Linked DNA regions of Homo sapiens: regions 1, 2, 4 and 5 are each reported to be linked to region 3. Evidence: microRNA targets listed by miRTarBase, many of them from high-throughput screens and not tested one by one. Region 3 holds a microRNA gene; each other region holds the end of a gene's coding sequence. Distances are from middle to middle.

Region 1 (4,753 bases), not on the chromosome of region 3:
CTCAAAAAAAAATAAATAGGTCAGGCTTGGTGGCTCAGCACTTTGGGAGGCCAAGATGGGCGGATCATTTGAGGTCAGGAGTTCGAGACCAATCTGACCAATATGGTGAAACTCCATCTCTATTAAAAATACAAAAAAAGGCCGGGCGCAGTGGCTCACGCCTGTAATCCTGTAATCCCAGCACTTTGGGAGGCCGAGGCGGGCAGATCACGAGGTCAGGAGATTGAGACCGTCCTGGCTAACATGGTGAAACCCCGTCTGTACTAAAAATACAAAAAAAATTAGCTGGGCGTGGTGGCGAGCGACTGTAGTCCCAGCTACTCAGGAGGCTGAGGCAGGAGAAAGGCGTGAACCCGGGAGGCGGAGCTTGCAGTGAGCCGAGGTCACACCACTGCACTCCAGCCTGGGCGAGGGAGCGAGACTCCGTCTCAAAAAAAAAAAAAAAAAAAAAAAAAACTAGCCAGGTGTAGTGGTGCACACCTGTAGTCCCAGTTACTTGGGAGGCTGAGGCAGGAGAATCGCTTGAACTCGGGAGGCGGAGGTTGCAGTGAGCCGAGATCGTACCACTGCATTCTAGCCTGGGTGACAGGGAGACTCCATCTCAAAAAATAAAAATTTAAAAAACACCAATAATAATAATAATTAATAAACTTAATAAATAAATAAATAAAAGACAGGAAATGACGGTGAGAACCGGTGTGAGGGACTAGCTAGTGGCCAGTGCTAACAAGGAGGTGCTTGTGACCTGCTATGGACCTGGAAGCGACTAGGGCTGAGTACAAAGGGGGCAAAGGAATTTGGGGGTGATGGAAATGTTCTGTATCTTGACTGTGGTGGTGGTTATATGAGAGTTGGCATAACTTTAAAACACCAGAAAGGGTGAACTTTACTGTACAAGTGGTTCACAACTGCAATCCCAGCACTTGTGGGAGGCTGGGGCTGGAGAATTGCTTGAGCCAAGTTCGAGACCAGCCTGGGCAACATAGGGAGACTGTCTCTAAAAAAAATCAATCCCAATGATGGCATTCCCCGCCTCAGGGAATGCCAGCCCCCACTTCTTCTGTCACCTCTCCCCCATGGGCCCCGTTAACGGATACAGGGAGGAAGGCATTTCCTGCCTAGATGTCTCCGCCCCCACTGCCATGGAGACCAGCTTGGAAGCTTAGGGGAGCTGCTGTGGCCCAGGGCTCAGTGGGGAGGAAGAGGAGGCCAGGAGTCTTGGACTAGCTGCAGGGTTTGAGCTAGGCTGAAGCAGCAGAACCACAGAGGTGGCTGAGCAGGGGCCTGGCCCTGGGACCCAGCCATCCACACTCACACATCCACTTCTCCCTCCAGAGCCCGGCCCTGAAGCAGGTCTCTGCTCCACGCTTTTCCTTAGTTGGGGAATCGAGAGTTGGGGGATCAAAGCCCCCCACATCTCCCTCACCCGCTGCAGCTATGTTTATCAAGGTGATGTTTGGGGGTAAGTGGGGTCCCCTGTCTTGGTAGGCGGATAGGGGGATGAGCACACTCAGAGGCGTGCTTCCTTCCGCCCTTGCGGTGGGTGGGGAGGCAATGGCGGGAAAGGGGGGTGGTGCACATGGCGGGGGTCGTCGGGGAAGCGGCTCTGTGAGGAGGCGAAGCCAGCACCTGGAGCGAGTCCCTTAAAGGGAAAACCCGAGCTGAGTCCTGCTCATTCACAAGGGTTCCTCTCGGCCAGAGACCGCCGCATTACCCTGGAGCAGGTTTTTAAGCCGCACAATCTCTTCGCCATTCAATCCGTGATCCTCAAGCTTCAGCGTGCATCAGACACCTGAAACTCTAGCCACAGTTGCAGGGTCCCCGTGCCTCTGGCTGGAGGCGGGTCGGCCCTGTGCGGTAGCGGAAGGGAAGAGAGGAGCCGGTGGGTGCGGAGGGCGGGGACTGGCTGGGTCCCGTGGGGGCGGGTCCCGGGAGGAGGCTGGGCTGGCGCCCACTTCGTGCTTTGCAGGACTCAAGAGACCAACACTTGGGAGTCACCACACATGGGAGAAAAGTCACCACACATGGGAGATGGATGGAGGGTTCTCCAAGGCAGTTTAAGCAACAGATGTTGGAGCTGTTATGCCCGGGGCACAGTCTTAGCCCATAGGCCCAGTCGCAGCTCTGGGAAAGGGAGAGATGGGAGGGAGAGACAGAGGACCCCGATTTGGAGGAAGGTAAGAGATCTCACAGGCTCACCTTTGCCCCTCTCCACAGCTGGCTGCTCGGTGCTGGTGAACACCTCTTGCAGGCTGGTGAACCTCACCGCCCACCTGAGGCAGAAAGCAGGGTTGCCCCCAGATGGTGAGGAGACAGGGAGGAGAAGGAGGGGCTGAGGGGTCCCAGGCAGGGGTGCCAGCCCTGCCCAGTCTCTCTCCATGTCCTCCCAGCGACCATTGCTCTCCTGGCTGAGGATGGCAACCTAGTGAGCCTGGAGGAGGACCTGAAGGAAGGGGCTTCCCGGGCCCAGACCATGGGCAACTCCCTACTGAAGGAGCGAGCCATATATGTCCTCGTTCGGATCATCAGTAAGGTGGCCCAAGGTTCTCTCCCCTGCAGCTATGGTAGAATGTAAGAGGGGGGCATAGCAGACCATAGACCACCCAAGGCCCTGTCCGGCCTCCCACCTCGGCTGGGGACCTAGCCCCAATCCATCCCTACCCAATGCTCTGCTCCCAGCCTGGACTAGCAAACAGTTCCAGAGTGAGAGGCAGAGTAGGGACCATTAGGCCAGTCAGGTGTCCTTCATCGTCTCTCCACATGTCACAGAGGGAGAGGACATGGCCTCCACCCGCTATGAGTCCCTATTGGAGAACCTGGATGACCATTACCCAGAGCTGGCAGGTGAGTGTCAGGGTACAGCCCAGGGGGAGGGCACACCTTCTCCCTAACCCCTACCAACAGGACTTCCTGGGCCTTCCAGAGGAACTGCGCAGGCTGTCAGGCCTCTCCTCTGTGGGCCACAACTGGAGGAAGCGTATGGGCACTCGGCGAGGCCGCCATGAGCAAAGCCCCACTTCAAGGCCCAGAAAGGTGAGCTCCCTGCCACCCAGGAGTTGCTAGCTGGGGCAGGGAGCCAGGTACAGAGCAGATTTGGACATCCACAGAGACACCCAGAGTGGGATCCCTTCCTGCAGGACAGACACATATGATGAGGGGCAGACCCTCAACACCAACTCCACGCACATATACCCCCAGATGGAACACACTGTACCCTGAGACAGGTCCCCACCACCCCACGGGAGTGCCAGCGCACTAAGGGCCGGAATGTCCTCAGGCTTCACAGATGTGGCATAGGGGCTGGCACACAGTAGGAGCTCAGTGCACAACTGCTGGATGAACTCAATGAAGGCGGCAGCATGGTGTGTGATGGCACGGCCCACACTGGGTTTGAAGGGCTTGTTCTTCCATTCTGGCAGGCTTGGGGACCTGGCACACTACTGCCAACTAGCCAAGTTGGACTCAGACCCAAGGGGGTTAGCCATGACCTCTGCCTTGTGTGATCAGGTGCAAACAGACAACAACCCAGCAGGACTCCTCTTGCAGAATCTGGAATTGCTGAGAAGTTGCATCAGCAAGAGGGGCAAGGTCAGACAGGATTTGAGGCCGCCAGGGGCACCTAAGCTGTGGGTGCAGAGAATGGGATGCAGAGGTAGAGACAAGAAGGGTAGAGGTGGCAGGTATCCCTGATAAGGGGGAGACCATGGGTTCATCCTGGGATTCCACCCTCAGAGTCAGATGCCCTTGGGATCACCGACTAATGCCTCTCCACCTCACTCTGGACTGCCCAAGGAATCTGTCCTGTGCTACCCACAGTGCAGATTGCAACAGGGCTCCTCCTCCCCACCCAGGGCCCTGATTAAGGGGATGGATTGCACACTGTAGTGAGACATCCATCCTGACCCCACCTCATCAGCCAGGGAGCTCCCTGAAGACAGGCCATCGAGAGAGGCACACAACAGGCTGTGGTCTAAAATAAACTTTTAATTGCACATTTGTGTCTTGGGTTATCTGTGGGGTGAGAAACCTCCTCACTTCCAATCCCAGCTATCTGGGTACAATCTGGTGTTGTGGTCTGGCTGTCGGCGAGGGGTAGAGGTGGGTGCAGGACTGGCCCCCGAGTCTGCACCGACCTCTTCAGGGCAGGGAGCTCAGACCTGGGAAGGGAGGGGCAGCACAGGCTGGTGGTCAGCCTGCAGGTGCAAGAGGAGGGTTGGCCTCTCCCCCTCCCCGCCTGAGTCGGGGTCCACTCACTCACCATGGTAGTACTTGCACTGCTTCAGGGCCTCGCTGAAGCCCTCACACAGGGACAGGTCACTCTGAGTGGTGGAACAGTCCAGGAACTGCCTGATCTCGTAGGCGCAGGGCCCCATCTGCAGGGGCTGGGGGGCAGCGGGGGTGGGGGCCTGGGGGTACAGTGCAAGAGGCTGCAGGATCAGCTTGGAGTTGGCACCTGGAGGTGCGTTTCAAACCTGGGGCCACCTGCCCCTCCCCACATCCCCAGCCTGGGTGTCCCAAGGGTCCTAGGCAGGCTGAGTGATCCAGCAGCAGAGGCGGCTACAGACAGCATGTTTCTGCTGCCTTTTTTTTTTTTTTTTTTTGAGACAGAGTCTCACTCTGTCACCTAGAGTGGAGTGCAGCGGCGCAGTCTCGGCTCACTGCAACCTCCGCCTCCCGGGTTCAAGTGGTTGTCCTGCCTTGGCCTCCCAAGTAGCTGGGGCTACAGGCGCCCGCCACCATGCCCAACAAATTT
Region 2 (6,036 bases), not on the chromosome of region 3:
AGGCCTCTGTGGGGCAGGTCCTGGTTTCAGCATCTTCCCAGGTGCCCCCTGACAGGTACCGCTGTCTTTCACTTTCCAAAGATGGGTAGCGCCACCTGCTGGGTCATGTTGGGATAGCACCATGGGGTCAGCCCTGCATGGGGGACAGCCAGGCCCACCATGGGCCCAGCAGATAACCTAGATGTTTCCTTTTTATGGGTGAGCAAGCTGAGGATCTGAGCTGGACAGGGTGGGAACTGCATGCACATAGGGCCTGCTTCTCTCAAGCCTGGTGCCGTGCACTCCCAGTTTCTCAGTATCCCTGCAGGACGTGCCAGAGCAGGGTACAGACAAGGAAGAGTCCCAGGATTTCTCTGGAAGCGTCCTGTCTTCCTGGGGCTTGGGGAAAAAATCCCACAGTTTCTCAGTATCTGGCATGTAAACCCTACCTTTTAAAATTTGTTTTATTTAAAAACTTTTCAGATGGAGCCAAGATTTTGAATCTGCAGGGATCACAGCTCTGTGTGCCCTCAAAAGGGTGGGCAGCAGAGTCCTTGGAGAGGGTGCTATCCAAGGGCCGGCTCCTGGCAGGTGGGGACAGGCAGAGTAGGGTGCGTGTGGGCAGGGTGGGGCTGTGCTCAGTGCCTGCACAGCCTCACCGCCCTGGGAGCCCTGGGATTTAACCCGCCCTTTGTCTCTACCAAGCCCCACCCATATGGGACATGTGGAAGAAGGGCATCCAGGGACAGACCACACCCTCCCACAGCTCCGCACCCGGGTTTCAGGATGAAGCTGTTGATGGCGTCCACACACGTGGTTCCTTGGCTCTGGTCAGTGCTCAGCACAGACTGACGAAGCATCGACCTTGGGAACAAGCCCAGTCCTGCTTAGATTTACATCCACACCCTAGAAGCCATGGCTTCTCCATGTCTTGATGCCCCAGGCCACCTCGAGGCCTTTAAGCGGGGAGAGCGCCTCCTAGAAGAAGCCCAGTCGCTGAGGGGCATAGCCTGTTTGTAAGCACTACATGCAGCTGAAAGAGCAAAGCAGCCCCTCCCCCACAAAACCACAAAACTCAAGCCAGCCTCATAGGGCTGCCCTGCCTGGGCCCAAGCCTCCCTCTCACCCTTATCAGGGATTTGTCCAAGCAAAGCCTGTGCTAAAATAAGCCAGAATAATTCTTCCCCAGCCACACCCTCCAGTCCAGAGGCCACATTGAAGGATGGCTCTGGTATAGGGCTGTCAGAGGGCCGTGCAGCTTAGCCCTGCCCTGCCCTGCCCTCCTCTGCTCGGCTCTGCCCGCCCCTCAGTCATGTTTTTGGTACCCACAGGTGTGACGAGTACATTACACAGCTGGATGAGATGCAGCGGCAGCTGGCGGCTGCTGAGGACGAGAAGAAGACGCTGAACTCGCTGCTGCGCATGGCCATCCAGCAGAAGCTGGCGCTGACCCAGCGGCTGGAGCTGCTCGAGCTGGACCATGAGCAGACCCGGCGTGGCCGTGCCAAAGCCGCCCCGAAGACCAAGCCAGCCACACCGAGCGTAAGTCACACCTGTGCCTGTGCCAGCGACAGGGCCGAGGGCACCGGGCTGGCCAACCAGGTGTTCTGCAGCGAGAAGCACAGCATTTACTGTGATTAGGGGCTGTGGGGCGCCGCACGCTGCAGCTAACATCTGCTTCACCTCAACTAACCCAGCAGCAGCGGGACGGCGGTGCTAGGTCAATCTTAACGTGACTAATGCACAGAGGGTAGGAGTCTAGCCGAGGCGCCATGGGGCGTTGCATCAGCAGGACACTTGTGAGAGCTTTGTGTCGCTTCTCACTCCTCAAAGCCCCCTCAGGAGCACCCAGTCCTCAGCTGCTCTCTTAGGTGGGGGTCAGAGGTGGGGATAGAGCTGCACATTCTTGCAGCAGATGTGTGATGAAAGCATCTTCTAAGCCCTGCGCACCCGTGGGGAAACCCAAGGGAGGAGTCCTGGTCCTGCTCCCTCAGCACCCAAAAGGGGCAGAACCTGAGTTGAGACTTGCATGTTCCTCGCATGTGTCTAATGTCAGCACTAGAAAGCAGTTTTAGGAGGTTCCAGCCTGCAGCATAGGTACGACCTCAGAGGATGGCTTTGCACTTGGCATAGTTTCATGGAAAGGAGTACGTTGTAGTTTATGCAGTATCTGACTGCAAATCATATTCAGGAAAGAAGTGCAGAATTTCTTCCCCAAGCCCAGAGAAGAGCAGCCCTGAGCCCCTGTATTCTGCTGGCCAGACACACATGGCACAGACACAGCTGACCATAACCCAGGAATCCAGAGCTCGGTTTCTCATTTCTGAGATCAGGATGCTTGTATAGTGGCCTGTGAGGTGACAGATTGGCAGGGCCCAAGGCCCCAGGTTTTCATTTTTCATGAGAAAAGCTTTCCAAGTGCCTGGCCAGACCTTGGTCCTTAGTGCAGAGCCCGTCCTTTTGTACTTGGGGTGACCCCAGCAGCCAATTATCCGGCCTTCCATAGGGGGTTCAGTCCCAAAGACATGGGGCTTTGAAAACCCTAGCCTGAAGTCTGAGCCACCAAGGGCTTGGCTGGGTTGGACACCCACAGGTGTATCCAGAGCCCAGCCCGGTGCTGGGAAAGCTTTGCATAGGGCCAGGGCCACTTGTCAGGATTCACAGGTAGGAGATGTTTAGGTCTCTTTATTTAGTGCAATCTGGGGGATGGCAACAGAGAAAGAGGAAAGGTAGCTGTAGGGTTCTCCCATTTCCAGAGGCTCCATCCACACCTGCCTTCCCACATTCTGAGCAGAACTTTTCTCAGTACTTTTTTCCCGATCACCCTGTGGGACCAGCTGGACCTGAGGCTGCAGTCTTCTCTCCTGCAGGCTGCTTGCCTTGTCTCTCATGCGGAAGAGGCATTCGAGTTACCTGGTGAGAGACCGTGTTGCCCCCTCCCACAGCTCTCTGCCCTGCGCGTTCTTCCCTTTGGTGCCGAGTATGTTTCGGTCCCCTCCAGACTCCAGGACACGCCCATGTATGTCCCCTGCGTGTTCATCCTGGGCCCAGATCCCCCTGCCCCAGCAAGACTCGCAGTGGGATGGCTGCTGGCATGCCCACCCTGCATGCGCTTTGCCCTCTCCTTGCAAGCCTGGCACATAGCTTCTCTCCATACTCCTAAGGGACTTTGCAGACACCCAAGCCACTGGGACCCCTGCTAACACATGCAGGTCTTCTCTTCTGCCAACTAACGTGCTCGCGCCCTCCCAGCACGTGGAGAGCTTCAATTGTCAGATAAACAGGAAGCGACAGATGACCGCTTTCTAACGCTCTCTTTTCTCCCGTTTTCAGCTGTAGAGTAGCTGCCAGGAGGACTTGGCCACCCGGCCCTGTCACACTGCAGCCCCTTCCCCTTCCCTCTCGTGGCCCACAAGGAGGAAGGAAGGGCAACCTAAAAGCCCACTTAGAAACTTTTTGGATATGCCACTGCAATTCTTTTCAAAATAGCATTCCCCAGGTTTTTAATGGGAGGAAAAAAAGCTTTAATGTTGAGCATGCTGCGAGCTGCTGCGTGGAAAGGCCTCTGTATGGGCCGAAGACCCTTCTTCCCTGGCTGCCAGGCTCGCCAGGAGCCCACTGGAAACGCCCACCACGGGGGCTCCTTGTTACACATGTTCTTTTTTTATCCGATCAACCTGTGCACTTTTGATATTTTGATATTATATTTGCTTCCTTAATTCCTCGCGTAGAGACGGTCTCAGGTGCCGTGGTCTATGCTCGTGGTCCTGTAGCTGTCCGCCTCAGCTCCCACCGTGTTTGTCTGGTGTCAGCACGAGGCAGAGCTGTGTGCTCCATAGCGTGTAGCTTTAGACTCGGAGATGAGTGCTTTGACCCAGCGAGGAGCTCAGCTAAGTGTATCCACGCTGTGGTTCAGCAGCCTTTAGATCATACGGCATTGTGGTTCATGTTTGAAATTACAGATTTTAAATGCCATGTTCATTAAGAAATCCAGGGTATTCAGATTCTGGGGTTTTTCATATTGTATTATTATTATTCTTAGGAATAGTTCAATGTAACAAGAAGAAAACTTGACCTTTGCTCTGGTTAAAACAGTAATAGGCACTTGAAAAAAAAAGATAAATTATTGAATGAGTAGTATTACCTACAAATTCCAGAATTTTCTGGGTTTTAGGACGTTGTGAAGCATGACTGATTAACAGAATTTTATACAACTGTACCAATAAAATTCCAAATTGGAATTGTTTTGTTACTCTGGTTGTTGTGCCAAATTGTGGTACACTTAGAAAATTCTACAGTCGTCGATTTTTAGGGTGTTCTCTTTCAACACCTTTTTGTTAGTAATCATTGCCAGTAGTGCCTTCATCAGTTAAGGGAGGTGTCCCAGCACAGATCATTCTCAAAAGCGAGCAGGGAAGAGCTAGTGGGCATGCTGAAGGCCAGCGTGGACAGCAGGTGAGGCAGGTGCTCCTCACACCCAGACCTGGGCATCTTCATTGAGGGAAAGAAAACAGTCATTGTGCAAAATTCTGTTAGTCAGTGATTCTTTACTTGCAAATTCAGGGGCTTAGAAAATGAAAGCAAACACAAAACCTTGAGTGTGCTTTGGGAACCAAATGGACCTTCTGGGACAAGCTGAGCAAGCTGTATGAACGCCACGTTTGTGAAGAGCTGAGGGTATCAGGAGGGCCGACGCTGTGTTGGCATGCGCAGTAGGGGATGAGGGTTAGCCATAGTATTCTTTGCAAATGTGAAAGCGAGACATTATATCTTCTCTTGCTTGGTGTAACTAATCACTGTTAATTTCAGGAAACAGAACTCATTAAAACTCCTTAGCAAACCAGGTCTACATCCTGTTTTGTTTGCTGAGTGAGGTTAGTGGGAGTGGTCAAATTGGTACTCTTGGAGGAAGAAAAACTGTCCTTCCTTCTCCAAAAAAGGAAAAATTATAATAATATAAATGACAAAAATAAAAGAATTCTGTTTCCTGGAATAAGCATTTCTTATTCCTAGTTGTAGGGACTCCTATTTTTACCTTCCGTTACAGTGTTGATTCATAAGAAATATTGTTACATTTGAGATAACTTCATCTGTATGGGGTATTTATTTGCAATGATGTCTGAGTACTGTATTTTTTCTGTGCATTACCTTAGTGTCAGAATGTTGGTCTTTATTTTAAAGTCATATGCATGTTCTCCTGCCAAGGAACCTTTACACAGACCCAAACAAAAAAATAATAATCAAATGCCTTCAATTTCTGAGAAAATGAGGCAGAGCATGGAAAAGGAATAGGAAGGAGAAATTAATTGAGATTTTCAGGACACAGACATATGATGTGAATGCCTACAAAGCCAGTGCGCATAGGAACAGTGGGCCTGGGTAAAGAGTCACATTGGTAGGACCAATAAAGAATAATAAAAAGACAAAGCACATGTTTGTTCTCTGTGGTTGTTCTGACTCCGTGCTCCAGATAACTGTGGTTTAAGCAAGGCACAATAAATCCACTGCCTCAAACAACAACAGCAACAAGCCTATCAGGTAACCCTGGTAGTGGGAACTGGAAGCAGCCTGGGGTCCACCTTCAGGAGAATGGGGAGGGGTCATGTATATGTGGGGAGGCTGTCACTCCATCCCTGAAACAAGAATGTGTTCAAGGACCCAGAAGATGAGGGTAGGGAAAGGGTAGAGTTGGTGTCTGGGTGCTTGTGCCAATCAAATACACCACCAGGCAGAAGTGAGCCAGGCCACACTGGGCCACGCACATGAGTGGAGTGGAGGGCACAGACAATGCCCCCCCCTGGAAAGATGCCTGCCCCCCAGGGCCCTGACGCCTCATAACTCTGTCCTCAAGGGTCTTCTGAAGTGCAGCATCAGGTTTGAAGCCACAGCAGCATGTTGGTAAGAACACATTGTGTATACATAGACTAAAACTAGGAGTAGCCTATGCTATCCTGATGAGGAGGCAGGGATTCAGATGATGTAGAATCCTTTGCTGTCTAAACTCTCACTCTCTGAACCCAGGAATCACATTTGTCTGTAGGAATATGTACAAATATA
Region 3 (6,036 bases):
CGGAGGGTGGGGGCGCAGCTTCCTTCCTGATCGCAGCCTGCTGGTCCCTGCAGGGCTGGGGTGGGGCCGGCACTCTCGGGCCCCCAGCTGTGAACGTGAGGGGTCTGCCCCACGGGTTGCAGGGCTGGGGGCCTTGCTCAGGTCAAGAAGTGGCTGTGGTGAACAGAGGGTCTCTCGTCTGAGCGTGTGGTCCGTGGGCCGTGTGGCAGCCTCAGACAAGGACCTCACCCCCACCTGTGCTCCGGGAAAGCACGGAGGGTAGCAGGGCCCCTGGGGTGGGCACTGAGGGGGCGGGTTCCATCCCCCCAGGACTTCTCCTACGATGAGTCCAAAGTGGAGTTTGACGTGGACGCGCCCAGTGGGGTGGTGATGGAGGGCTACCTCTTCAAGAGGGCCAGCAACGCTTTCAAGACATGGAACCGGTGAGAGGCCTTCCTCAGGTGGGGGCGGGGTCCTTAGGCGGGGGTGGGGTCCTCAGGCGGGGGTGGGGTCCTCAGGTGGGGGCAGGGGTCACAGCAGCCCTGGGATGGGCCCCGCCTGACTCCCCACATCCCCCCACCCACCTAGGCGCTGGTTCTCCATTCAGAACAGCCAGCTGGTCTACCAGAAGAAGCTCAAGGTGTGCCCTGGGCCTGGGGCTGGGGCCCTGATGGCTGGACGCCCCACCTGGGCCACAGGGCAGACTGGTCAGTTGGGGTTAGCACAGGGCCGGGGCACTAGTGGACGCCGGAGCCGGAACAGTCAGGGAGCAGAGAGCTGGACACGGGGCTTGGGGCTCAGGCAGTCGGCCTCCGGGTCTCCAAGGTGAAGCAGGAAGTGGGTGGTCGGGGCCGGGTGGTGGCTGAGGGCAGGGGCCACAGCGGTGCCGCCCACAGGATGCCCTCACCGTGGTGGTGGATGACCTCCGCCTGTGCTCTGTGAAGCCGTGTGAGGACATCGAGCGGAGGTTCTGCTTCGAGGTGCTGTCACCCACCAAGTGAGGAGGCCCAGCCCAGGGTGGGGCGGGGGGCGTACCTGCCCACCGGAGCTGACGCCCGCCCCTCCACTGCCTGCAGGAGCTGCATGCTGCAGGCTGACTCCGAGAAGCTGCGGCAAGCCTGGGTCCAGGCTGTGCAGGCCAGCATCGCCTCCGCCTACCGCGAGAGCCCTGACAGTTGCTATAGCGAGGTGTGGCCCTTGGTGCCCCTGCCCCAAGCCCGTGCACACACACGTGCCACCGGGGATGGCCCCTGCCCCGCGCCTGTGCACACACACACGTGCCACCGGGGATGGCCCCTGCCCCGTGCCCGTGCACACGTGCCACCGGGGATGGCCCCTGCCCCGCGCCTGTGCACACACACACGTGCCACTGGGGATGGCCCCTGCCCCGTGCCTGTGCACACACACACGTGCCACCGGGGATGGCCCCTGCCCCAAGCCCGTGCACACACACACGTGCCACCGGGGATGGCCCCTGCCCCGCGCCTGTGCACACACACACGTGCCACCGGGGATGGCCCCTGCCCCAAGCCCGTGCACACATGTGCCACCGGGGATGGCCCCTGCCCCGCGCCTGTGCACACACACACGTGCCACTGGGGATGGCCCCTGCCCCGTGCCTGTGCACACACACACGTGCCACCGGGGATGGCCCCTGCCCCAAGCCCGTGCACACACACACGTGCCACCGGGGATGGCCCCTGCCCCGCGCCTGTGCACACACACACGTGCCACCGGGGATGGCCCCTGCCCCAAGCCCGTGCACACATGTGCCACCGGGGATGGCCCCTGCCCCGCGCCTGTGCACACACACACGTGCCACTGGGGATGGCCCCTGCCCCGCGCCTGTGCACACACACACGTGCCACTGGGGATGGCCCCTGCCCCGTGCCGGTGCACACACCTACGTGCCACTGGGGATGGCCCCTGCCCCACACACGTGCACACGCCTGTGTGTGGCTCCTGCAAGCTGGGTGTGTGCTGGTGTGCACTGGCATGCTGGCTTGTGCAGTGTGGATGTGCATGTGTGTGCAGGTACCATCTGCCCATGTGAGGGTGTGCACGTATACACGCGCGTGTGGGAGTGTGCTCGGCACCATCTGCCCACGTGAGGGTGTGCACACGTACGTGCGTGTGCGGGCGTGTGCTCGGCGCCACCTGTCCACGTGAGGGTGTGCGCGTGTGTGCGTGTGCGGGCGTGTGCTCGAGGGGGGGGCCATCTGCCCACGTGAGGGTGTGCGCGTGTACGTGCGTGTGCGGGCGTGTGCTCGAGGGGCCCTGGCCTGCATTGGCTCTTCTGGCTGGGGAGGAGGGGGCCTGCTGGGGAAACCATGCTGGAGCCCCTGCGGGACCGAGCAGCTCCACCCCATCCTCCAGAGGCTGGACCGCACAGCATCCCCGTCCACGAGCAGCATCGACTCCGCCACCGACACTCGGGAGCGTGGCGTGAAGGGCGAGAGTGTGCTGCAGCGTGTGCAGAGTGTGGCCGGCAACAGCCAGTGCGGCGACTGCGGCCAGCCGGACCCCCGCTGGGCCAGCATCAACCTGGGCGTGCTGCTCTGCATTGAGTGCTCCGGCATCCACAGGTGGGCCCCTGAGGGCCAGGCTGGGGGTGGGGGTTGGGCTGGAGCATCCACAGGTGGGCCCCTGAGGGCCAGGCCGGGGGTGGGGGTTGGGCCGGAGCTGGGGGCCTTGCCTCCCCCAGACTCATCCCTACCTCTGCTCTCCAGGAGCCTGGGTGTCCACTGCTCCAAGGTGCGGTCCCTGACGCTGGACTCGTGGGAGCCTGAGCTGCTAAAGGTGCGTGTGGGGCTCCTGGAGGCCACGGGACCCCGTTTGTGGGGGCGGGAGCTGGGGTCTGCAGGTTCGCACTGATGCCTGCTCGCCCTGTCTCCCGCTAGCTGATGTGTGAGCTTGGAAACAGCGCTGTGAATCAGATCTATGAGGCCCAGTGTGAGGGTGCAGGCAGCAGGAAACCCACAGCCAGCAGCTCCCGGTGAGGTGGGGTACAGTCTGGATCAGTCAGGGAGCCCCAGCCTGGGGGCACAGCCTCATGTTCCCCCCTGGTCCAGGCAGGACAAGGAGGCCTGGATCAAGGACAAATACGTGGAAAAGAAGTTTCTGCGGAAGGCGCCCATGGCACCAGCCCTGGAGGCCCCAAGACGCTGGAGGGTGCAGAAGTGCCTGCGGCCCCACAGCTCTCCCCGCGCTCCCACTGCCCGCCGCAAGGTCCGGCTTGAGCCCGTTCTGCCCTGTGTGGCCGCTCTGTCCTCAGGTGGGAGGCCATGCCCCGGCAGGGCTGGGAGGGGCTTGCCTTGGTCGGGGATGGACTCCGTCAAGGGGCTGGTGGCAGGGCTCTGGGGGCACCTCAGGCTCCGCAGACTCCCGGCGTGACCTGGGGTTCCCTGCCCCACCCCGGGCCTGTTCCACACTCTGAACACGCACTGCCCCTGCAGTGGGCACCCTGGATCGTAAGTTCCGCCGAGACTCCCTCTTCTGTCCCGACGAGCTGGACTCGCTCTTCTCCTACTTCGACGCAGGGGCCGCAGGGGCTGGCCCTCGCAGTAAGTGTGGGGTGGGCCCAGCCAGGTGGCAGGGCAGGGCCAAGGAGGCTGGCCTGAAGGGTGCCTGAGTGTGGATGGCCCTTGCCAGGGAATGGAGCAGCATCTGAAGGGGCGGGGGGCCTCCTGGCCACACAGCTGGAGGCCAAGGCCCTGACTGTCAGGGGTGAGCTGTGCAAATGTGTGTGTGGGCTGTGTGCACCTGGGTGTGTGCACACAGCGGGTGGCCCGGGGTGCTGGGGAAGCAGAGGGCGCTGCCAGCCGGCCCTCAGCCTAGGGCCCTTCTGGAGCCATGCTGCCCGTTGGTTGGGTGGAGACATTTCAGCCTGGGCCAGCCACAGACGGGGCTGGGGGGCCCACTGCGGGGGGTGCCGGGTAAGGCGGCGAGCGGGAGGGAAGGGCTTCCCAAAAGGCCTGGGCTTTAGGGGGCTACCCCTGGCACCTTTGAGCTGTTATTTGGTTTTCTCTCCTTTGCTCCTAGCCTGCAGCTGGCTCCCCCCGGCCCTGGGTGGGAGCTGGTCCTGTCCCTAGGGGTGGCCCCTGGAGGGTGGGTGGAGTTCCAGCCTTGCCCCAGGGCTCTGGACGGAGTCTGGGCCTCCCACCCTCAGGACCCCCTTCCCTGCGGACCTGCAGGTCTGAGTAGCGACAGTGGCCTTGGGGGCAGCTCGGATGGCAGCTCGGACGTCCTGGCTTTCGGCTCGGGCTCTGTGGTGGACAGCGTCACTGAGGAGGGTGGGTGGCGTCTTGCCCTCGCCCGAGGCCCCTGCCCAGCCCCTGGGCAGCCCCGGGGGTTGCTTTCCCTGACCGCCCCCTCCCCACAGAGGGTGCAGAGTCGGAGGAGTCCAGCGGTGAGGCAGACGGGGACACTGAGGCCGAGGCCTGGGGCCTGGCGGACGTGCGCGAGCTGCACCCGGGGCTCTTGGCGCACCGCGCAGCGCGTGCCCGCGACCTTCCTGCGCTGGCGGCGGCGCTGGCCCACGGGGCCGAGGTCAACTGGGCGGACGCGGAGGATGAGGGCAAGACGCCGCTGGTGCAGGCCGTGCTAGGGGTGAGCGAGCCACGGGGGCTGCGCGCAGGACACAGGTGCACAGTCGCGTTTGCATCTTCTGTGGCGCCCACACAAGGGTCGCCTGTCCGCGGTGGGGACCACGTTCGGTCCCGGCTGGGGGCGCCCAAGGCCGGGGTCAGGGTGCAGAGGCGCGGAGAGGGGCCGGTGCCGTGGCTCCGTCTGAGTTGCCCCGGCTCCCCAGGGCTCCTTGATCGTCTGTGAGTTCCTGCTGCAAAACGGAGCGGACGTGAACCAAAGAGACAGCCGGGGCCGGGCGCCCCTGCACCACGCCACGCTGCTGGGCCGCACCGGGTGAGACGCGCAACCCACGCCCCGCCCTGTGCCCCGACCACGCCTACCCCGGCCCGGCTACGCCCTGTCCGCCATGCCCTATCCGGCCACGCCCCCGCGACCACACTCGCCCCGCCCCGCCCCGCCCCGACACGCCCCTCCGACCTCGCCCCTCAGCCAGGTTTGCCTGTTCCTGAAGCGGGGCGCGGACCAGCACGCCCTGGACCAAGAGCAGCGGGACCCGTTGGCCATCGCAGTGCAGGCGGCCAACGCTGACATCGTGACACTGTGAGCGCGGCCGGGCCCTCGGGGCTGGGCGGGGCCTCCAGGGCAGGGGCGGGGCCTCCAGGGCAGGGGCGGGGCCTCCAGGGCAGGGGCGTCTCACGCTGTGCCTCCCCGTAGGCTCCGTCTGGCGCGCATGGCGGAGGAAATGCGCGAGGCCGAGGCTGCCCCTGGTCCCCCGGGCGCCCTGGCGGGCAGCCCCACGGAGCTCCAGTTCCGCAGGTGTATCCAGGAGTTCATCAGCCTCCACCTGGAAGAGAGCTAGGGCCGGGCAGGCCGGGCAGCTGCCACCCCGCCCGGCCCGACGCCCCGCATGCCCCGAAGTCCCTGGCGCCCACCCGGCCGCGGCCCTGCGTGTGACCCGCGGGTCGATACCTGGCAGCCCCAGTGCTGGGGCGCCGCGGCCCTGCTCGCCCAGGAGGAGAGCGAGGGCCCCACACTGAGTCTCTTGAAGCCTCACGTTTCCCTGGGGGGGTGCTGCATCGTCGGGTGTCCCTCACCCCACCTGGGGAACCTCTGTCTTCAGGTCACCCCTTTTCAGGGGCCTGGGTTGCTCATGTCACAAGCCACTTTTAAGGCCCGTGTCACCTGTGTCCCTGTGTCCTCAGGGCCTGTGTTACTTCGTGCCCCACTTCTGCCCAGAACACTGACCTGTTAGCTGGCTCCCTCCTGCACACCCCAGAGCCTCCTCCCAGGGCAGAAAGGGTGGCCCATCCAGGGAACCAACGAGTACCTCACTTAGTGACCCCAGCATCCAGGCTGGCGTCGCGGGTGCTGGGCGGGAGGGGCTCTGGCCTGGGTCCTCAGCCCTGGCTGGACGCGGGCGTCCCAAGGCCACGTGGCTGGCCACGAAGGTCCCCGTGCCAGACAGCCCCA
Region 4 (5,314 bases), not on the chromosome of region 3:
GTGAGGTCTGTGATGATTCAGTCTTTCCTTGAGTGTGTGGGTTACAGAGAGTCTTGCATCAGCCTAACTTGGGTGAGCCTCAGGGCTTTGGGTCTCCGTCCCTCTATTTCAGCCCCTGTCCCTCCTCCCCACCCCTGCAGTTTGCACTCTATAAGAAGATGACCCAGGCGGCCATCCTGATCCAGAGCAAGTTCCGAAGCTACTATGAACAGAAGCGATTTCAGCAGAGCCGCCGAGCGGCTGTGCTCATCCAGCAGCACTACCGCTCCTACCGCCGCAGGCCCGGCCCTCCCCACCGGACTTCGGCCACCCTGCCTGCCCGCAACAAGTAGGGCCCAGCCCCAGCCCTCTGTGCCCACCCACTGCATCCACGCCATTCCCCCTTACTCATCCTCTTGATCATCATGCCTCACTGCCATTCCCTGCCTAGGGTTCCTGGGGGGGCCGAAGGCATGCGATGCCTTCTGTGAGGTCCATCTTTTGTTTCTTTCACCAGAGGCTCCTTTCTCACCAAGAAGCAGGACCAGGCAGCCCGGAAGATCATGAGATTCCTGCGGCGCTGCCGACACAGGTACTCATCCCTTCTCCCCCTGGGCTTTTGCGTTGCCACCCGTCGTGATCCGCCAGTCTCCTCTGACTCCTATCTTTCTCTCTGCAGGATGAGGGAACTGAAGCAGAACCAGGAGCTGGAAGGGCTTCCCCAGCCGGGACTGGCCACATGACCTGGCCACCGCCTTTCTCACCACCCTGGGGGCGCCTCGTGCAGTCTTAACAGGGAGAGGGCTTTCTGGGGCAGGGGGAGCCCCTGTCGGCAGCTTTCCTGTTCACCTTTGTTGGAGCCCTCTGTAGGCCTCCTCCCTCCTCCCCACGCCTTGCTCCCACACCCCTCTCCTCGTCCCTCCTGGTCGTGCCCCGTCTCTTTTGGTCCTGGCTCCAGAAAACCCGCGCCCCACATACCTGCATCTTCCGCTGTGACCTCCGGAGCCCTGCCTGCCCCTGCTCCCCAGCTCCTCCTGCCTGCACCCGACTCGGCCCCCTCCTGACTTGCCTTATTTATTTGTTCGACGCGTCTCTGAATGTATCCGCCTCGGTTCCCACCACTGCCTTCGCTGCGCACGCCCCTCGTGTTTCAGGGCTGACCGTGTCCCCACCCGACTCCGCATGTTTGCGTCTGTTTCCTCCCTCTCTGGCCCTGTCTTACCCCATCACCCGACTCTGGCCACTGACCTCAGGGCCGAAGGGGAGGTGGTGTACATAGGAACGCGTTGCGGAGTCCGCCCCGTCCCCCGAGGGGAGGGGTCTTGTACATACTGTAACATACAGAGTATAGTGAAGAATCTATTTAAGGCGCCGCGGGGAGGGCTGCACGGCCGGGCTTGTGGTTCTCTAGCGCGGCGGGGGCCTCCTGCCGGCTCCACGGGCACTTTCTACTTGTGCATGGGCTTGGTTTATACGAATTGCCATTAAACATCGCTGCACCAGCCAGCCTCCGGCCTCTGTCTGCGGGGGCGGGGCGGGGCCTAGGCCAGCTGGAGGCCGCCATGCACCGCGGGCCTGGGATCTGCGCCCAGGCCAGGCGGGCCCAGGGTTTTCCGCCTCCGACGTGTTTCCGGCCTTAAAGGCATTCCGCCCTTCCCTTTAAGACGCACCGCCCCCTCTCAGTCACTCCCAAGATGGCGGACCTACTGGGCTCCATCCTGAGCTCCATGGAGAAGCCACCCAGCCTCGGTGACCAGGAGACTCGGCGCAAGGCCCGAGGTGAGGATCCCAAATTCACAACCGCCTTCCTTCGCCCGGTTCTCGGGACCATACTTCTCCCTCTTTGGACGATGCCGCCTCCTCAACCTTGAAAGACCCCTCACAGGCCCCTTCCGAGACCCTCAGAGTCCCTAAAAGGGCTGCTGACACGCCCGCTGTTCTTAGCGGACAGTGATTGGCTACCTGAAAGATAGCGCCAGCCTCCTGCCTCTTCTCCCGACCCTGGCCTTCCGCAGTCCTTGTTTCCCATTAGCCGGCCGTCCCGCCTGTCCGCTGCTGACCTGGTCTGATTGGTAGGGTGCCTCCAACCTGCCGCATTCCTGCCCCGCTCACCTCTAGCTCTATTTCGATTGGATTTAGGACACGCCATCTACTGTGCCTTCATCTCTATTGGCTATCTCAACTTAAAGCTCTGCCTCCTCAGGCCTGTTCGACCTTCCTTCGAAACCACCCCAGCCTGCGAATTCCCATTGGTTGCAGGGTCCTCTGTGTGTTCTTGCCCCTCCTGCTTAATTTAACCCAGTCCCTTCTGCCTCCCTCCGACAACCTTTTTCCCATCCGTAGCCTTAAATTCCCGAGCTGCCCGGGCGGATCGTAGTGTTGATTGGAGGGATGAGAATACCCGCCGGGTCCGATTGGCCACTGTCTCCGCCTGCGTTCTCGGAGTAGCTTCCCTGCGGGTGGGCTGGAGTTCGGCGGCCGGCGTAGGGCGCGGCCCTGCAGGGCGGTGGGAGCCTCCCCGGGGCTGCTCGTGTTGCAGCTTGGGATGATACTGGCGGAACGCAGGACCCCAACTCCCAAACCTGCGGACCTTGACCACGGACGAGCCCTGTCCCAGCTCCCCACGTGCCCCAGGGGGACCAGAGCAGGCAGGACGCCTTCCAAGTATTCAAGGGCCGCTGGTTGCCTACGCTTCGTCCCCTTGTTTCTTGAACAACCGTTAGGGACCAGGGGTACCCCTCAGGGAGGCCACAGTCCGGGGCTGGGGCGCTCATTGATGCAGTGATCACACGTAAGTTTAATAACCAACTTGATAAGTGCTCTGAGAGAAAAATAACTGTGAGAGCGGCCACCTGAGGTTCTCCCCCAATCTGCAGTGAGCCGAGATCAGAACAGGTAATTCCGTAAATGAGAGAGAGAAGCAAAGCGTTACAGGCAGAAGAGTCTATTTGAAATCTCTGAGAAAGGAGGAAGCATGATGGGAATGGGGAACTGGAATTCTCTAATGCTCCGATGACTGTCTAAGTGGGGGATCACCCGGCATTGACAGACTGGGAAGCTTAAATGAGTCACTCGCCTGAGGTCACATGGTTAGTTTGGTAAGTGGCAGGGTTTCAAACCCAGGTATGACTGGGCTCGAAGCCTATGTTCTTGACCATAATCTTGTGCCACTTCTCTAGATGCAGAGAAGACTCGAAAACCAGTTAAAGAACAGTCAGTGGGGCCCGGCCTTGTAGCTCACACCTTTAATACCACCACTTTGGGAGGCCGCGGCGGACGGATCGCTTGAGCCCAGGAGTTCAAGACCAGTCTGGGCAACATGGAGAAACCCCATCTCTACAAAAAATACAAAAATTGGCCGGGCTCACGCCTGTAATCCCAAAACTTTGGGAGGCCAAGGCGGGCAGATCACGAGATCAAGAGATCGAGAGCATCCTGGCCAACATGGTGAAACCCCGTCTCTACTAAAAATACGAAAATTAGCTGGGCGTGGTGGCGCGTGCCTGTAGTCCCAGCTACTCAGGAGGCTGGGGCAGGAGAATCAGTTGAACCCAGGAGGAGGAGGTTGCAGTGAGCCGAGATTGCGCCACTGTACTCCAGCCTGGCGACAGAGCGAGACTCCGTCTCATAAATAAATAAATAAATAGATAAATAAATAAATAAATAAATAAACATTAGCTGGGCTTGGTGGCGCGCTCCTATGGTCCCAATTCTCGGGAGGCTGAGGTGGGAGAATCGCTTGAGTCTGGGAGGTTGAAGCTGCAGTGAGAGGTGATTGCGCCACTGCACTCCATTTTGGGCGATGAAGTTGAGACTGTTTCCAACAACAAAAGATGAAATGCGCTGATGGTCAGTGAGGACAGAGGGATGAGAGCTCATAAGCTGTCAGGCCCTGGGGCTCCAGAGGATAACTGAACAGTAGATCAACAGGGTCCCTGCCCTCCAGGAGCTCATACTATGCTGAAGGAGACAAAAAAAAAAGAAGTTATGATACGTTAGTTCTCTGTCTATGCTGCTGGGTGTCTCAGCCAAAGGAGCTTGGAGCCCAGGGGAAGAAGTAACTGACTCACGGTAGATCTCAATGTTTGCAAGAGGAGGAAAAGCATTCCAAGCAGAGGAACAACGTGTGCAAAGGCATGGAGTTATTTGAAAAATGGGGAGAGGGCTCATGCCTATAATCCCAGCACTTTGGGAGGCTGAGGCGGGCAGATCACTTGAGGTCAGGAGTTCAAAACCAGGCTGGCCAACATGGCGAAACATCGTCTCTACGAAAAATACAAAAAAATGGGCGGGCGTGGTGGCTCACGCCTGTAATCCCAACACTTTGGGAGGCTGAGGCGGGCGGATCACCTGACGTCGGGAGTTCGAGACCAGCCTGACCAACATGGAGAAGAAAGCCCATCTCTACTAAAAATGAAAAAATTAGCCAGGTGTAGTGGCACATGCCTGTGATCCCAGCTACTCGGGAGGCTGAGGCAGGAGAATCACTTGAACCCGGGAGGCAGAGGTTGCAGTGAGCCAAGATTGCACCATTGCACTCCAGCCTGGGCAAAGAGAGCGAAACTCCATCTCAAAAAAAGAAAAAGAAAAAAAAAATTAGCCGGGTGTGGTGGTTCACACCTGTAATCCCAGCTACTCGGGAGGCTGAGGCATGAGAATCACTGGAACCCGGGAGGCAGAGGTTGCAGTGAGCCGAGATCGCGCCACTGCACTCCAGCCTGGGCACACAGCGAGACTCTGTCTCGAAATAAATAAATAAATGATGGGGAGAGGTTCAGTGCAGCTGGAGAGGATTCAGATCCTGGGGAAGAAGGAGGCCTTAAAGATGTAAAGGATTTGGCCGGGTGCGGTGGCTCACGCCTATAATCCCAGCACTTTGGGAGGCCGAGGCGGGTGGATCATGAGGTCAGGAGATCAAGACCATCCTGGCTAAAACGGTGAAACCTTGTCTCCACTAAAAATACAAAAAATTCTCCAGGCGTGGTGGCGGGCGCCTGTAGTCCCAGCTACTTGGGAGGCTGAGGCAGGAGAATGGCGTGAACCCGGGAGGCGGAGCTTGCAGTGAGCGGAGATTGCGCCACTGCACTCCAGCCTGGGCGACAGAGCGAGACTCCGTCTCAAAAAAAAAAAAAAAAAAAAAAGATGTAAAGGATTTGAAATGGCAAAAGAGAAAAAAATTTCAGGCTGAGGAGCAGGAGTAGGAAGAAGCATGCACCCAAATCTCTAGAGGTAGTAAAATCACATCGTGGGGAAGACAGGCAAGCATGGAGGGCCCGGGTTAGAAATTCTTCCTCCTCCTCCAGAGGCAGAGGGGATCTGGCGCAGAGGCAGGATC
Region 5 (5,981 bases), 4.9 Mb from region 3:
TGTCCCACATCCTAGGTCCCCCTCTCCTGTGGGAGGTCTTGGTTTACAATACTTGACAAGTTTAAGGGTCTGAGTCCCATGTACAAATGGAAAGTGAAATCAGGTGTCAACACCAAATTCCAGGCTCCCCTGACATCAATGACTTCAACAGCCGGACCATTATTCCCCATCACCAGGGTCCTTATCACCCTCCAGGAAATCAAGTGTCCCCTAAAAAGGCTGAGCTCTAGATAGCCCCAGATATCAACTGTCTTAAGACACTTGGTATTATCCAACTTCCTCACTTTCCCCGTGTTTCTGACCACCTCTGTGCTACACACCATTCATGAGCAAAGTTAGGACCCACGTATTTCAACACCTGGCTGCTCCTGAAAATGTATGAGGACAACAGTCCTCAAAACCCAAACACTTCACCACTGGAAGTGCCATGGGAAAAGGGGGATCAGAGGCTTTTTGGAGGGAAAACATGAAGCCTTTAGAAGTGACTAGTTCGTAGCACTTAGTGACATCAACAAACCTCATTTCCTCAGCTGTACCAGCACACTCGAGGGAAGGGCGTGAAGGTGTTGTGTAACTGGCATTGGCTGAGACGAGACCAACCTCCTGTTTCCGGACTCTTATGAACTTAAATCACGGCTTGAAACTCTCCACGACCCCAGTCAGCCCCTGTGCCTCAACTATTTTCGATCAGGCAAGTGAGGTGTGAGTCAAAACAAAGGAAACTGGTCTACAGTGTGCTTTGGGCGCAGCTGGTGTCATGGTTGTGATGGAATTCAAGTTGACACTACCTATTCCCCATCAGAAAACGGCATTTGCTGGCAAAGTTGATCCCCAGACTCTGGATCTGGAGAAATTCTACACAGAGTTCAGTGACAGCCAACCCCTGAATCTCACTGCGGCAAAACAGCACAACTAAGGGAAGAAAAGTGGAAATAAAGGACATCTTTTCTTCTAAGCCTAATAAAGACCAACGTAACTGTTGGTACAGCAACTAATTCGTGAGGACAAAGCTTTTCTTCACATGCCAGTCCTTAAAAAAAACAAAGCCTCGTACAGTAAGAGTAGCCAGGTGTTAGCCACTTTAATAGAAAATATGATCAAAACTCGATTACAAGAGTTCAAAAAGACATAGAAAACCAGTGAGTTTCAATTTTATTACAAGTTTTCAAATCTGGGACTAGTTTCTTTTTTTCTTTTAACTGAAATGCCAACTTCAGCCCAGGGTTTTTTCACAACCAAACTAAAAATGACTTACTACATGGGAACATCAATGCAACAAGTAGAATTTGTAAACTCAAGCCACAAACTTAGTTAATAATCATGGTTAAGGGACATTGCCAAAGAGCAACTGATGCCTCAGTGAAGTTTGAAAGAAACTCTGCTTTCTGTGACGGCAGAGAAGAAATATGCAAGCAATTCTGCTTCAAAGAAATTTGCATAGAAATGGAAAAATGCCAGAGCCTTTAACACAAGTGAAATTGCAAAGCCTCAACACGTTCAACTCAATCCACAGAGCACCAAATGTTTAATGGGAGCCAAGGTAGGACTGAGCATTGAACTTCCAGCTATGCAACTCGCAGGGCACAATTTCAAGTGTGGAAACCATCTGTAGGCAAGCTCTTTTAAAAACATGAATTTTAGACACCGTAAATTCTAATGCAGACACTTTTGCATTACTGTTTGAATTTCAGAAGGGCACCACAAGGCACCAGAGTCTTTCAAAGTCACTCACAGCAACAATTGCATTTTTTTCCCAGCCTTGGTAGCCCCTTTCAGTTGTCTAGCCTCTGCACTGTGGCACACCACTGACATTAAATCCAGTCATGGCCTAAGTGGCATGAGGCAGCTATTTCCAGGGCACCTCCCACCTCCTTGGCATGGGAGGCTTCCCAGTCACTCCTCCTTCGTGTCCCCTCTTTCAAGAACCTCCAGAGCTCTTGGCATCAGGGGCCCCCATTGCTGGGCCCCACACGGGAGACCACATCTGGAAGCACTATTCCTACAGCTCCCTCTGCTGGAGACGAAAGTGACAGTTTGTTGCAAAGACCTGTAGAAACATTACTTACACGTTCATTTCTGTACACATTTAGTTAATTTAGAACCTGGGACTTTTACAATCGATTCCCCAAACCCCTTTATGGCAGCAACACTGAAGGAGCACAGTTTCTCTCTCTAGGAAGAAGAGGATTAGCAGACATAATTGTGTGCGTCAAGAGAAATTTGTAATCAAAAAATGAAAGTAAGACGAATGGCCCAGAAACCCGCATTTTATTGACAGTCATTTTCCCACAGAGAATCTTAGAAAGATGTCGCGTTTTCTTTTAATGAATGAGAGAAGCCCATTTGTATCCCTGAATCATTGAGAAAAGCAACAGATACAACTGACAGTCACACTTTTTAAAATCAAACAGTCACTACCTTCAGCCCACACCTCCACACCCGCATCTGCCTCCCCAATGGCTGTCAGTTCGGTAAAGTCACCCTCTCCTTCTACTCTGGTATTACCACGAGAATTGAAATTTTTAAGCAGAAAAAAAAAGAAGTCAAGTTACAAATAAATGAGTGGCGAACCAAGGGAAGCCCTTTGACTATGATTTCCAATTTTCTGTTCAATCCACACTGCAGAGATACAAGGATAAACCACCATTTTGGTTCCCAAGTTTTATTCAAGAACTCATACAAAATTTTCCAGATAAATGAAATTTAATCCTCGTCTTCCTCCTCTTCTTCGTCCTGGTTAATCTGGAAGTAACGTAATTCGTAACTCTCTTTGCTGTTAGCAACTACGCGCAACCAGTCACGTAGATTATTCTTCTTCAAATATTTTTTGGTGAGATATTTCAAATACCTGCAGAGAAAGGACACAAGAACTCCACTAGACAGTTGGTGCTTGCATTCTAAAACATTTTAACATTTATAAAACCCAGCACTCAAAATCATTACAATTCAAGGTGTTTTCCCAAGCCTCAAAAATGGCAAAGGTAAGGCAAATACACCCAGCCAAGGCTCTGAGTTATCAGCCACGTACCATCGACATCGGCAGTAACAATTAGAATAGCCTCAGCATGGTGGCTCAGGCCTGTAATCCCAGCGCTTTGGGAGGCCAAGGCAGGCAGATCACTTGAGGTCAGGAGTTCGAGACCAGCCTGAACAACATGGTGAAACCCCATCTCTACTAAAAATAAAAAAATTAGCTGGGCGTGGTGGTGCACGCCTGTAATCCCAGCTACTCGGGAGGCTGAGGCATGAGGATCCCTTGAATCCAGGAGGCGGAGGGTGTAGTGAGCTAAGATTGTACCACTGTATTCCAGCCTGGGTGACAGAGCAAGACTGCCTCCAAAAAAAGAAAAAAGAAAAAAAACTAGGCCAGGGGCACTGGCTCACACCTGTAATCCCAGCATTTTGGAGGGCTGAGGCAGGCGGATCATGAGGTCAGGAAACGGAGACCATCCTGGCTAACACGATGCAACCCTATCTCTACTAAAAATACAAAAAATTAGCCAGACGTCGTGCTGGGCGCCTGTAGTCCCAGCTAGTCAGGAGGCTGAGGTAAGAGAATCGCTTGAACCCGGGAGGCAGAGGCTGCAGTGAGCCGAGATGGCGCCATTGCACTCCAGCCTGGGCGACAGAGCAAGACTCCATCTCAAAAAAAAAAAAACAAAAAAAAAAAACAAGAGCAGATAAGTAGATAAGTAGATGTACCAGTTGTCCATGAAAATGCAGCAAACACCTATAACATGGTTTTTAGTGACCACTGGAGAAAGATAACATGATAGAAATTTACAGTTAAGTACGCAACCTCAATACCTTTTATGCAGAAAATAGTGGGTTTCCAAAGAGCTGTAAGCGCTGCGCACACATCACCTCACGGAGTCAAACCCCCTTTTGAGGTTGTCTGGATGATGAGGACTGCTTCTTAGGGGTGTGCACACACTCGCTCCTGCTCACCACCCAACACACAGGGACAGAATGCCACCCTGCCACTGCGCTCACGCCCAGAGAGCACAAAGCCTTTCAGTCAGCCTGCCCAATTGCTGCTTTAGCCAGGTGAGAGCTAAACACTCACCACAACAGGGATCATTTAAAAACTCTTTTATTTATTTTTTTAGACAGAATCTCCTTCTGTGGCCCAGGCTCACTGCAACCTCTGCCTCCAGGATTCAAGCAATTCTCATGCCTCAGTCTCCCATGTAGCTGGGATTACAGGTGTATAACACCATGTCCAGCTAATTTTTGTAATTTCAGTAGAGATGGGGGTTTTGCCATATTGGCCAGTCTGGTCTCGAACTCCTGGCCTCAAGTGTCTGCCCACCTCAGCCTCCCGAAGTGCTGGGATTATAGCTGTGAGCCACTGCGACCAGCCAAAACACTCATTCTTTATGGAAAGGCAAAAACTGGCTTTTGTGCCCAACACCCTAACTACATAAAGATGACCTAAGGGCTGGGCACAGTGGCTCACGCCTGTAATCCCAACACTTTGTGAGGCCAAGGTGAGAGGATCCCTTGAATCTAGGAGTTCGAGACCAGCCTAGGCAACATAGCAAGACCCTGTCTCTACACAACATTTTTTTTTTTAATTAAAAAAAAAAAAGATGAAGTGCACCACAGTCTTGGCAGCTCTCTCACCGGCTTGCTTCCGTGGCCCTGAGGCTATTCCGAATCTTCCCAAGCCATAAAGAGGGAATTTCACAACACACAAACCCACAGCAGAGCCAATTCATCTACCCAAGCTGTTTCTCCCACAGTGAAAGGGGATCCCTGCTACTAACCATCTCTTCAGACCATAGCAAGGATTACATGAGATGCTCAGAGAGATCCCTGGCATTTTTTTTTTTTTTGAGACGGAGTTTCGCTCTTGTTGCCCAGGCTGGAATGGCACGATCTCCGGCTCACCTCAACCTCCGTCTCCCGGGTTCAAGCAATTCTCCTGCCTCAGCCTCCCGAGTAGCTGGGATTACAGGCATGTGCCACCACGCCCAGCTAATTTTGTATTTTTAGTAAGAGACGGGGTTTCTCCATGTTGGTCAGGCTGGTCTGGAACTCCCGACCTCAGGTCATCCACCCGTCTGGGCCTCCCAAAGTGCTGGGATTACAGGCGTGAGCCACCGCGCTCAGCATGGATCCCTGGCATATTCACAGGACCCAAATGTCATGAACCAACAGACTCACCATCTCCAAAAAAGGAGCACTGTGACAGTGCTCCACACCAACAAAGCAATCTCCACACCAACAAAGCAATCTCCACACCAACAAAGCAATCTCCACACCAACAAAGCAATCGCCACAAAGTGTGAAGATCTCAATTCAACTGTCCACTTTTTGCTAAGCAAAGATAAATCAATTTGGTCATTCCATCTAAAAAGTATACTTTTGTCAATTATTTCCACCATATTGTATTCAGATGAGGTTAATTCAAAATTTCAGGTGGTTGAAATGTTCCCTGACATAGCCGGACATGGTGGGGCACTCGTGTAGTCCCAGCTATTTGGGAGGCTGAGGTAGGACTGTTTGAGCCAGGAGATGGAGGCTAGAGTGAGCTATGATCACCCCACTGCTCTCCAGCCTTGGTGACAGAGTAAGACCCTATCTAAAAAAAAGGAAAAAAAAAAATCCCTAATAGTACACTGGGGAAAAAAATCAGGTTAAAAAAAAAAAAAAAACCCTGTACAGGCCAGGCAGGGTGCCTCATGCCTGTAATCCCAGCACTTTGGGAGGCCGAGGCGGGTGGATCACCTGAGGTCAGGAGTTCCAGACCAGCCTGGCCAACATGATGAAACCCCCTCTCTACTAAAAATACAAAAAATTAACCGGGCGTGGTGGCAGGCGCCTGTAATCCCAGCTACTCAGGAGGCTGAGGCAGGAGAATTGCTTGAACCTGGGAGGCGGAGGTTTCAGTGAGCTGAAATCGCGCCATTGCACTCCAGCCTAGACAAGAAGATCAAAACTCGTTTTCAAAAATATAAATAAATAAAAACCCTGTA

What was found. The annotated mature microRNA hsa-miR-6726-5p reads CGGGAGCUGGGGUCUGCAGGU and lies in region 3 at 2,824-2,844, shown strand. An mRNA with a match to its seed (bases 2 to 7 or 8) in the 3' UTR can be bound and repressed. Matches are read on the target gene's strand: a 7mer-m8 pairs with bases 2 to 8, a 7mer-A1 pairs with bases 2 to 7 and ends in A, and an 8mer does both.
Region 1: the mRNA of CHCHD10 is a reported target of hsa-miR-6726-5p. The part of its 3' UTR that is shown has no 7-base or 8-base seed match.
Region 2: miRTarBase lists BICD2 as a target of hsa-miR-6726-5p. Seed matches in the 3' UTR shown: 8mer at 3,764-3,771.
Region 4: the mRNA of CAMTA2 is a reported target of hsa-miR-6726-5p. Seed matches in the 3' UTR shown: 7mer-A1 at 875-881.
Region 5: miRTarBase lists RPL22 as a target of hsa-miR-6726-5p. Seed matches in the 3' UTR shown: 7mer-A1 at 1,530-1,536.

The regions. Positions count from the first base shown.
Region 1 is chr22:23,761,870-23,766,622 of GRCh38, forward strand. It overlaps CHCHD10 (coiled-coil-helix-coiled-coil-helix domain containing 10), which reads right to left. Exons shown (of 4, transcript NM_213720.3): 3 at 4,259-4,406; 4 at 3,965-4,157. The coding sequence ends at 4,138. C22orf15 (chromosome 22 open reading frame 15) reads left to right here and starts at 1,121. Exons shown (of 6, transcript NM_182520.3): 1 at 1,121-1,462; 2 at 2,218-2,304; 3 at 2,391-2,528; 4 at 2,770-2,844; 5 at 2,924-3,033; 6 at 3,852-3,994. The coding sequence starts at 1,438. The coding sequence ends at 3,863. RefSeq lists enhancers at 3,641-4,440, 4,441-4,753.
Region 2 is chr9:92,710,738-92,716,773 of GRCh38, reverse strand. It overlaps BICD2 (BICD cargo adaptor 2), which reads left to right. Exons shown (of 7, transcript NM_001003800.2): 7 at 1,311-5,411. The coding sequence ends at 1,620. Among named protein-coding and RNA genes, the nearest start is that of IPPK, 44 kb to the right of the region's middle.
Region 3 is chr1:1,292,953-1,298,988 of GRCh38, reverse strand. It overlaps MIR6726 (microRNA 6726), which reads left to right and starts at 2,819; the gene lies at 2,819-2,879. It overlaps ACAP3 (ArfGAP with coiled-coil, ankyrin repeat and PH domains 3), which reads left to right. Exons shown (of 24, transcript NM_030649.3): 11 at 310-422; 12 at 568-619; 13 at 876-976; 14 at 1,056-1,167; 15 at 2,356-2,564; 16 at 2,709-2,778; 17 at 2,880-2,974; 18 at 3,051-3,253; 19 at 3,435-3,542; 20 at 4,173-4,271; 21 at 4,361-4,587; 22 at 4,790-4,899; 23 at 5,056-5,166; 24 at 5,281-6,036. The coding sequence ends at 5,425. RefSeq lists an enhancer at 870-1,806.
Region 4 is chr17:4,964,164-4,969,477 of GRCh38, reverse strand. CAMTA2 (calmodulin binding transcription activator 2) reads left to right here. Exons shown (of 23, transcript NM_015099.4): 21 at 141-328; 22 at 497-571; 23 at 659-1,481. The coding sequence ends at 722. SPAG7 (sperm associated antigen 7) reads left to right here and starts at 1,661. Exons shown (of 7, transcript NM_004890.3): 1 at 1,661-1,758. The coding sequence starts at 1,674. It overlaps LOC124900387 (a long non-coding RNA gene), which reads left to right and starts at 1,765. Exons shown (of 2, transcript XR_007065587.1): 1 at 1,765-3,077; 2 at 3,159-3,656. RefSeq lists enhancers at 1-583, 1-616, 584-1,261, 1,262-1,938, 1,526-2,025 and 2 more and a silencer at 1,436-1,515.
Region 5 is chr1:6,183,969-6,189,949 of GRCh38, forward strand. RPL22 (ribosomal protein L22) reads right to left here. Exons shown (of 4, transcript NM_000983.4): 4 at 1,052-2,848. The coding sequence ends at 2,704. Among named protein-coding and RNA genes, the nearest start is that of CHD5, 6.6 kb to the left of the region's middle.